2 linked regions of the Homo sapiens genome follow. The protein of the gene in region 2 purifies or fractionates together with the protein of the main gene of each other region. This does not show direct contact. Each region holds a gene or a part of one and is shown on either strand. Other genes may lie near its edges.

What was found.
Region 1: the proteins of PROC (region 2) and MMP15 purify together in Homo sapiens (co-immunoprecipitation; one study listed by IntAct). This does not show direct contact.

Annotation. Positions count from the first base shown.
Region 1 is NC_000016.10:58,024,561-58,028,553, forward strand, and holds the start of MMP15 (matrix metalloproteinase-15 preproprotein), read left to right. Parts: upstream 1-1,193; 5' UTR 1,194-1,790; coding exon 1,791-1,952; intron 1,953-3,993. UniProt on the Homo sapiens protein: Endopeptidase that degrades various components of the extracellular matrix. May activate progelatinase A.
Region 2 is NC_000002.12:127,416,779-127,421,226, reverse strand, and holds the start of PROC (vitamin K-dependent protein C isoform 10 preproprotein), read right to left. Parts: upstream 2,801-4,448; 5' UTR 2,781-2,800; coding exon of another isoform or gene 2,715-2,780; intron 1,531-2,714; exon of another isoform or gene 1,422-1,530; coding exon of another isoform or gene 1,285-1,421; coding exon 1,215-1,284; intron 1-1,214. UniProt on the Homo sapiens protein: Protein C is a vitamin K-dependent serine protease that regulates blood coagulation by inactivating factors Va and VIIIa in the presence of calcium ions and phospholipids. Exerts a protective effect on the endothelial cell barrier function.

The sequences.
Region 1 (3,993 bases), on a different chromosome or scaffold from region 2:
TTCTCTAAACTCCGACTTCCTTTCCCCAAGGACATCCCAGGAGGGTTCAAACGCGCCCTCTCTAAGGCACTCTGCCAGGTCTCCTGATTTCCAGTTTCCGGGAGGTGAGGCCGGCTAGGGTGCCCCGAGGGCCTGCTCTAGAGAAAACCGCCCTCAGGTGAGGACGGCTTCCATTTCCGGGTCTGAAGATAAGGAACAGCTTATCTTCGGTCTCCGCCCTCCTGCCTGCAACCCTCACCCACTGACCACGCCGGCCAGTCCGCCGCGCCAGGGCTGCCCTTGGCCTGGTCCCCGGGTCTCGGTGGACCTTCGACCCGGGCCTCCCAGCTCTGGCCTCCTGCATCCACCCCGCCCCGACCTCAAGCTGCTTCCGGAATAGAATGAAATCCAGCTCGTTAAGCTTCGCGGGGAGGTGTGTCCACCCGCCCCGCGCCGACTCCGGCCGCACTGTCGCACTTCACTCGCACCAGCCAGTGGCCAAAGTGCTTGGGCACCTATTGCGCCAGGCCAGGAGCCGGAAGTCTTACCTCGCCCTCACCCCAACTCTTTGCCCCACGTTCCCGATAAGAACATGGAGGCTCGGAGAGATTAATTTGCCCACGTGCAAGCGGCAGCTAAGGGGCGGACGCGGAACTTGAACCGTGTCCCTCCTAAACCTGCCCCTTGTCCGCCGCAACGCGCCCTCGACGCGCACAAAACCCTCACTTTGCTACTGAGGAAAGTTATTCAATGGCCAGAGACACCCTGCGGCTTTTGAAAAGAGGTTTCAGGCTGACAAATATCCATATATACATATATATTTATATTTAAGCCTAAAACGACTCTTTGATCCCTCCCCTAAGACCTCCTTCCCGTCCGCCTAGGCCTCGGTATCCCCCACCAGGTATGAGAAGGAGGAGTCTTCATTCTTCCCAGGCGGGGAGACCACGCCTTCCCTGCCTCCTCCCTCCGCGGGGGGTCGCGTTGGAGGTCACCCCCGCCCCCTAGGCGCTGGGTTGGGAGTGACGCGGGGTGGGCTGGAGAGGTTTCCTGCCGTCTGGGAAGCGTAAACGGACCGCCCACCTGTCGGGCCTCGGCCGCCCGCACCTGCTTGTGAGAAGCCTGCGGCTGGGGCACCGCCCCCGGTCCCCGCCCGGGTCCGCGCATTGGGAGCACACTGGCCCTTTAAGAGCGCGGCGGCCGCGGCGCGCGGGGAGGAGGGCTGGGAGCGCCCGGAGCCGCGCTGAACTCGCCGGGGACGTCGGGCGCCCGCTCCTTGGCTGGCTCGCTTGCTCTCTCGCTCGCTCTCTCGGGTCGGCTCCCTGCGCCTCCTCCCGGGACTGCTTGGGGACCCGGGCCCGGTCGGGCGCGGCGGCGAGCAGAATCCCCGTGCAGGAGGCGCGCGCTCCGGGCAGCGCCCGGCCCCGGGCATGGACAGAGGGAGCTGGGCGCGCAGGGAGCGCCGCGGGACCGGGCGGCCGGAGCGCTGAGCCAGACAAAGGCTCCGGAGTTGCGCTTGCTCTCGGGAGCCGGGCCCCAGGCGCTGGGCGCCGAGGCTGCGGAACCTCGCCGGGGGCAGCTCCGGTCGGCCCCCTTTCCCGCCGGCTGGTTCCGAGCTCCCGGACCTGCCCTGCCCGCTTCTCCTCGGGCTTGGGAATTTGCCGAGGCGACCTAGGCGGCTCCGGCGGGGACCGGGAGCCCGAGGTCCGCGGCGCGCCTGCCGGGCCAGGAGCCAGGGAGCGTCGCAAGTTTCCAAGGCGCGTGCGAGGATCCGGCGTGCAGTGTTCCGAGCTGGGCTGGGCGCCGAGAGCATGGGCAGCGACCCGAGCGCGCCCGGACGGCCGGGCTGGACGGGCAGCCTCCTCGGCGACCGGGAGGAGGCGGCGCGGCCGCGACTGCTGCCGCTGCTCCTGGTGCTTCTGGGCTGCCTGGGCCTTGGCGTAGCGGCCGAAGACGCGGAGGTCCATGCCGAGGTAAGACCCCCGCCCTGCCCTTTGGCTGCGGGCTGGGGGCTTGGAGGGAGAGGCGCCACGTCCGCAGGCTGGGACTTGGAGGTGGAGGGAGCGGAGACGCGCCCCCTGTTCTGGGCCGTGGCGGGGAAGCAAGCGGACTTGGCAGTCTGCCCCTCCCCAGCTCGCCCTCTGCAGCGCACCTCTTCGCAAACCCTTGAGGGCGCAGGGCCTCGCTCTCCTCCCCGCTACTCCTACAGCCCTGTTCTGGGCACTGAGCCCCCACCCCGACCCCCTTACATTCAGCCTGTGTCCCGGGAGCCGCTTCCGCCGCCCCCAGCCCTTGCCTCCCCTCCTTCCTTCCCTCCAGGGCAGCCGATTCCTCGAGAGCCCGGCTGGCGCGCAGTGGCGCTCTTTGCGAGTGGGGAGGGGGCTGCTCTCGGGGACAGCCACAGGCGGAGCAAGAGCTGGGCGGCTGGGCAACTGCGCTCCTGCCCAGGTGGCCTCCCGTCTGGGTGATACCGAGCCGCGCACGGCGGGCCAGGATGGAGGCGGGGGGATGGGTGCAAACGGCTGAGGCAGCGGACTCGGGTTGCGGGGGCGCTTTGGCGACTTTCTGCGCTTTTGCGAGGAAGCCTAGGCACGCCCGGGCGGGGTCCTAAGGACGGACCCTGCCTCCCACAGCGCTTCCTCCCAACAGCGCCCCTACGTCGAAGCCCTGGATTCGAGAGGGTGGACCCCGCGCCTCTCTTCGCTAGGAGCCCGCTTGGCGTCCCTCCCGGGGCCCCGCTCTGGATGGGTCCCGCGGGTGACCAGGCGCGACATCCCGGCGTAGAGCCGAGTCCAGCCAGCGCCCCAGCTCCATGGTGTCTCCCGAGCGAGGACACCGAAGGCGCCAGCTTTCTTGCCCCAGAGCAAGAGCAGGGTCCACTCTTCCCCGACTTCTAAGACCTGCGCCCTGCCCCAGATAGGCGGGGAGAGGACTTGGGCGGGGAGTAGGGAGAAAGAACCACCCCGGAGCCGCTTCTGAACGGTGCTCAGGCCTTGGTGCCCTTGGGCTGCCCGGGCTGCGGGCCTGAGCGCCGTTTCTATTTGCAGCTCAGCTGGTGCTCCCTCCCTGGCCCACGGCGGCTTTCCCACCTCTCCGGGCTGCCTGGGAGATTTTTCCGATGGAAGCTTGCCCTTCCCCGCCCTACTTTAATAAAAGCATAGAGGAAGGGCAGGGAATTCCTCCTGGGCTCGAGTTACACCTCCCAGCCATTTCCCCACCTGCTCTGCCCTCCCTCCCTGGCCTGGCCAGGGAGAGCTGAAGGAGGAGCCAGGCCCTGGTGGGAGGCAGGATAGGAGCCCCGCCCCGACCCAGTCTGGCCACCCTCCCCCACCCCATTCACACAGGCAGGAGGAGCTTTAGGGGGCTCCTGTTGGTGAGGATTACCCCTCAGCCTGTGACCCAAGTACTGGGCGGAGAGTGCCATTTGGGCCCACCTGCCACTCTGGGCTGGAGTGCCAAAGAATTTCAAGTCACAGTCCCACCATTGAGTTTCTAATCTACTTAGGGATGGCGTCAATACATAGGAAGCAGTGATGGAATTCAATGGCCGTGCATTGCTAATGGCATCCTAGCTGGCCAGGAGCTCAGGGGTGCAGGGACCTGTAGTTGGAGGGGCTTCACTCTCTCTCTCTTCTGCTTTTCCAGTTCCATCTCACCCCTACCCCAACTCCCCAGCTCAGGGAGTGCCCACAGCTCGATGCCGCCAGGGAAGAAGCCATGGTTGCGTTATCACAAACCGTGCTCCTGATCTGGAGGTTGTGACTGTCCTGGAGCCCTACTCCTGGGGAAACACTTGGGTTGGACCTGGGCAGTGACTGGAAGAGACCCCGGAAGGTTTAAGGAGCCTTGAATGTTGGCAGCCATGCAGATAGAGGGCTAGAGACAGGTGGAGTGTCCCAGCTCCTACAGTTGGCTTTGGGTACAGGCTGCTTCTAGGGTCCCATCAGGTCTGGCCACATGTGGGCCCAAAGAGTCAAATGGCCTCAGCAGCCAGCCCATCTGCCGGGGGCTGTG
Region 2 (4,448 bases):
GCCATGAGGGGGTCTGAGGAAGCAGAGCTGGGAGAGCCTGGGAAGGTCTTGTCTCCGCCCCCTCAAGACTCATTCTAATTCTAGGTCATGGCTTGGCGCAGGGGTCCTCTGCTCTTTTCCTCCCCAGGAAGCAGATGGCAGTTGGAGGACGAAGCCTTGCTCTGAGATGGACAGGCCTCCCTGTGAACCCCACCCCGATCTCTGTGTGACCTTGAGCCAGTGTCTTTACCTTTCTAAGGTTCAATTTACTCATCCAAAAACATGGGGATGAGACCGTCATGTAAAACATCCAATACAGTCCCTGGCCCAGAGATAAGTACTCAAGCCCTGGCTGCTGCTGTAAAGGCTGCCAAGTTAAATCCTCTCACTCTTCTGCCAGTACACCACGTGCAGCCCCATCTTGACACATCCCCCCAGTCTTCCTCTCCTCCCCCAACCAAGTATTCCCCATGCTTCTCCCCTTGGGCAGGGACACCTGGAGGATAGACAGACCTATCACCCAGGAAGGGTCCCCAGGTGTCTCCTGGGCTCTGTGAAGTGTCTGTCTTGGGTGCAGGGCACAGTTAGGAGGGAGAGATCAAGTTGGGGGTGTGAGCAAGAAGGGATGGGGGAAAAGGCATCCTAGAGGAGGGTATGCCTGAGCTGAGGGCACCTTGGGAAAGGGTGGAGGTGCAGGTCCCAAGCAGATAAACAGCTCTATAAAGGCACAAATGAAACCAACAGCCTGGTGTGGCTTTAGGGGCCCATGTGTCCTGCGGACCTCCCCAAGAATCATGGCCTCCTCCCGTTGGCTGTGGAGACCAGGAAAGGGGTTGGGGCAGGGCAGCCATGAGGCCAGTGTGCATTTGAGTAGGGGAGGCTGTGCTGGATAGTGTGGACGGTAGCCTGGGCCTGGGGTCTTCACAGTTGAGGGAGTGAGTGGGTGGAGAGGGAAGGCCCAGGGGACTCTGTGACCATCCCCGTGTGGAGGAGGGAGCTTTAGGAGGTCATCGCGGGGCTCCCTGCCATCACGCATGCCTGCCCTGGCAGCCCCTGTGTGGCACTCTGGCAGCTGGCCTACCTGGGACTTGTCAGTTGATTCCTGCCATTCCCATCTGCCCCTCACCTCACCCAGGGCTCAGAGAGATGGTGGAAGCTGTGAAGGCCTGGGCAGATGCCCACCAGGGCCTTGTAGAGGCCACAAGGGTCCCGGGGTAGGGGTGGGGTGGCCTTACCAAGAGGAGCTGGTGTGCCGGAAATTCCCCAGGTGGCCACGAACAGCAGGAGGCTTGTGAGCTGCCACATTCTGGAGGCACTGGCACCTGTCTGAGGAGGACTTCTGAGCTCCGGGCAGTGCCTACCCCCGCTGCTGCTCTGCCTGCACCCCCAGGTGGAAGCGGAATGAAAGGGCTGTCCCTGTGTGCTGGCCGTCAGGGCGGAAGCTGGGATTGAGGGTCCTTGTTCGCTAGAGACATAGCCTCAGAAGGCCTCGGCTGCCCGCTCTACGTGGGGCTGAGCTCACACTGCCTGCCTAGAAAGCAGCTCCAGAATGCAGTGGAGAGGGTGCCAGGATGTTTGTGTCCTCCCTGGGGACAGTGGGGTGGCTGCCTCTGCCGGTCTGATGACTGGGCTGAGAATATTAGCTAACGTTGATTGGACACTCATGGTGTCTTTCAAACAATTTTTACAGGATTCACAGGGCAGGCCATGAAGCCAGACTGCACGGTGCAAATTCCAGCTCCAGCACTTACTGGAGGGCAATGTTGGGCAAGATGCTTAACTGCTCCATGCCTCAGTTTCCTCATTTGTAAAATGGATGGAATAACGTGGTGTATCTGTGCCTTAAAGGGTGTTGTGAGAATTAAAGGAGTTAGTCCACATAAAGCTCTCAAAACAGGCTTTGCACATAGCTCATGCTCAGTAAACATGAGATATTATGACTTCAGTTAAGGCTCACAACCACCCAAGAGGTAGTTATTAATGCTGTCAACCCCATTTCATAGAGGGGGAAACTGAGACTCGGAGGAGTTAAGTGGTTTATTAAAAATCCAACCCTTGCTGGTCTCCGTTGATTGCACAGGGAAGTCACCAACCCAGGGGATCGATCAGATTCTGTCCCCCATCCTCCAGGAGTAGGGTCTCACACCATCAGTACACTGCAGGCACCAGACTCGGAAGACTGAGGCAAGGTCCTGGGTCTCCATGTTTACATCCATGCATTACTCGCAGAGCCAGGACTCAAGGCCAGGCCTGTGTGGTTTTAGGCCTGGAAATTCAACCCCTGCCCCAAACCACCAGGTGCTCCAAAAGGCCACAGAGATAGCCCTGGTGGCCAGAGATCAAGGAACCCTCCCCAGTGGATAGGCCACGTGGCCCTCTGCACACCCTACCGGACCCTGCTCTCCATTCTTGCCGACTCCCTCTGAGGCCACTTCTGAGATTTGTTCAAATCCGACACCCCCAAAGGTGGAAGTGGGGTGGGGAGAATGGAGGGTCCTGGGCTCCAAACTGTCTGTTGGAATGGCCCTGGGCCCTGGGGACCCTTGGCCTGGAAAGAGGGAGGCGCATGGCAAAGGGACCTGAGACTGTGGCTGCCAGGCCTGGCCTGTGGAGGGCCTTGTGTCCTTTCACCCCAAGCTCAGGCTTGTTGAGCACCCTGGCTGGAGGATTCAGCCCTCATCACCACCTAGCTCTCTTCTCCCGGGGGCAGCCCTCCCTCCACACCCCTCATAGACCTGCCTGGAGGGGGACTCACAGGGGCGGGTCGTGGAGATACTGCAAGTTCGCCGTCCTGCCGCCATGACAGCCTGGAGTTCGAGTTAATCCATAACCACAAATATTTGCTTGGCCCTCAGCACTGAGGCCTCCCTCTCCATAGACAAACAGTGGCACTAGCACTCCTGGTCCTAGCTCAGCACGGCTTGTTCTGCCCGAAGCCCACCTCTGCCCACCAAGGATGCCGTCCAGCAGGGAGGGAGGTGAGGGCAAAACCCTTGACAGATGTGGTCTCATTTTAGCCCCATAGTGGCTGGCTGAGGGAGGAACGTTGTCCCTGTTTTTCAGATGGGGACATTTTTGCCCAGAGATATTATAGTTTGCCCAAGATCAGCACAACAGGTAATATTCCATATTTCGTCAAATCTAAAATACCATTAATTATAAGACACATGTATTTATGTGCCACCATACAAGAAAAAAGACGCTGTCCCAATGACATGCCATCCCAATTTCTGATACATAAAATCATGAGAAGATGCTCCTTTTTGGGTCCCCAGTGCATAGGTGCTGGGCACTGGGCTCCACCCTCACCTCCAATTGCTCACAAATCACCCCCAATCCCCACCCCCAACACACACACACAATGGCACATAGCATCCCTCTAACCTCTATTTTTCAGGTAAGGACACTCAAGTTTTGTGTTACTCGCCCAGATTCACTGAGCTGGTAGTTGGCAGATTTAATTTGAACTCAGGTCTTGCTGCTTCCATTTGGCCCCTTTTGTGGACCAGTAAGAAAAATGAACGGGATTCCAGAAAGGCTGCAGCAATTTCCTGGCCGGGGTGCCAGAAGGGAGAAGGGCAGAAATAAAGGGTCCAGCTCAGCACCTTTGCCTGTGTCCTGCAGTCTATCAGCATTTATTAAGCGTCTTCCTGCTCCGAACCGGGCTGCACCAGAGATGCCCCCCTTTCCTCCCTGCCCTACCTGTTCCTGGGAAGACTTGCCCACGTTCCTTCTCCAAGTCTGCACCTCTAAACGGGGCATGTGACCCTGCCTCGCTGGCTTCCATTGATTGCACAGGGAAGTCACCAACCCAGGGGATTGATCAGAGGAGTAGGGTCTCACACTGTCAGTACACCATAAGTACCAGACTCGGAAGATTGAGGCCAGGTCCTGGGCATCCATGTTTACGCTTAAAGCAGAGGAAGCTGATGAGAAGGAAGATGCAGGTGTGCAGAGGGGGACTGAGGCCACGGACACCTAGAGAGTCCCAGGGAGCAGCGGAAGGAGGCCCCTGCCTCCTTATGATTGGTGGCACATCCTGGCTTCGGGTGCAGGAGGGTCCCCATGCCCTCCTAAAACCCTATTCCTCCTGAAGTTTCTTTAAATTGGCTGGAACAGCTTGTGTTGATTGTAACCAGATGCCTCCTGCTGAGGCACCACACCATGCTGGGCTGTGGTGGTACCAGGCCCTCCTAGAGGAACAGGGTAAAACTCTAACACTCTAACAAGTCAGGCCCACCTTGCCCAGGGGCAGGTACACATAGGAAATGCTTACAGAATTCAGAGGAGAGGGCAATCAGTACAAGCTGGCATAGCCAGGGGAGGCTGCCTGTAGGAGGTGACACTTCAGCTGGACATCAAAGAGCAGACAGGAGGAAAGACATCCCCCCCAACCCCACCCCAGGTTGGGAGACAGTGGGGAGACACAGAACACAAGCAGTCAGGAGGTGCTAGGAGGGGTGGAGGTG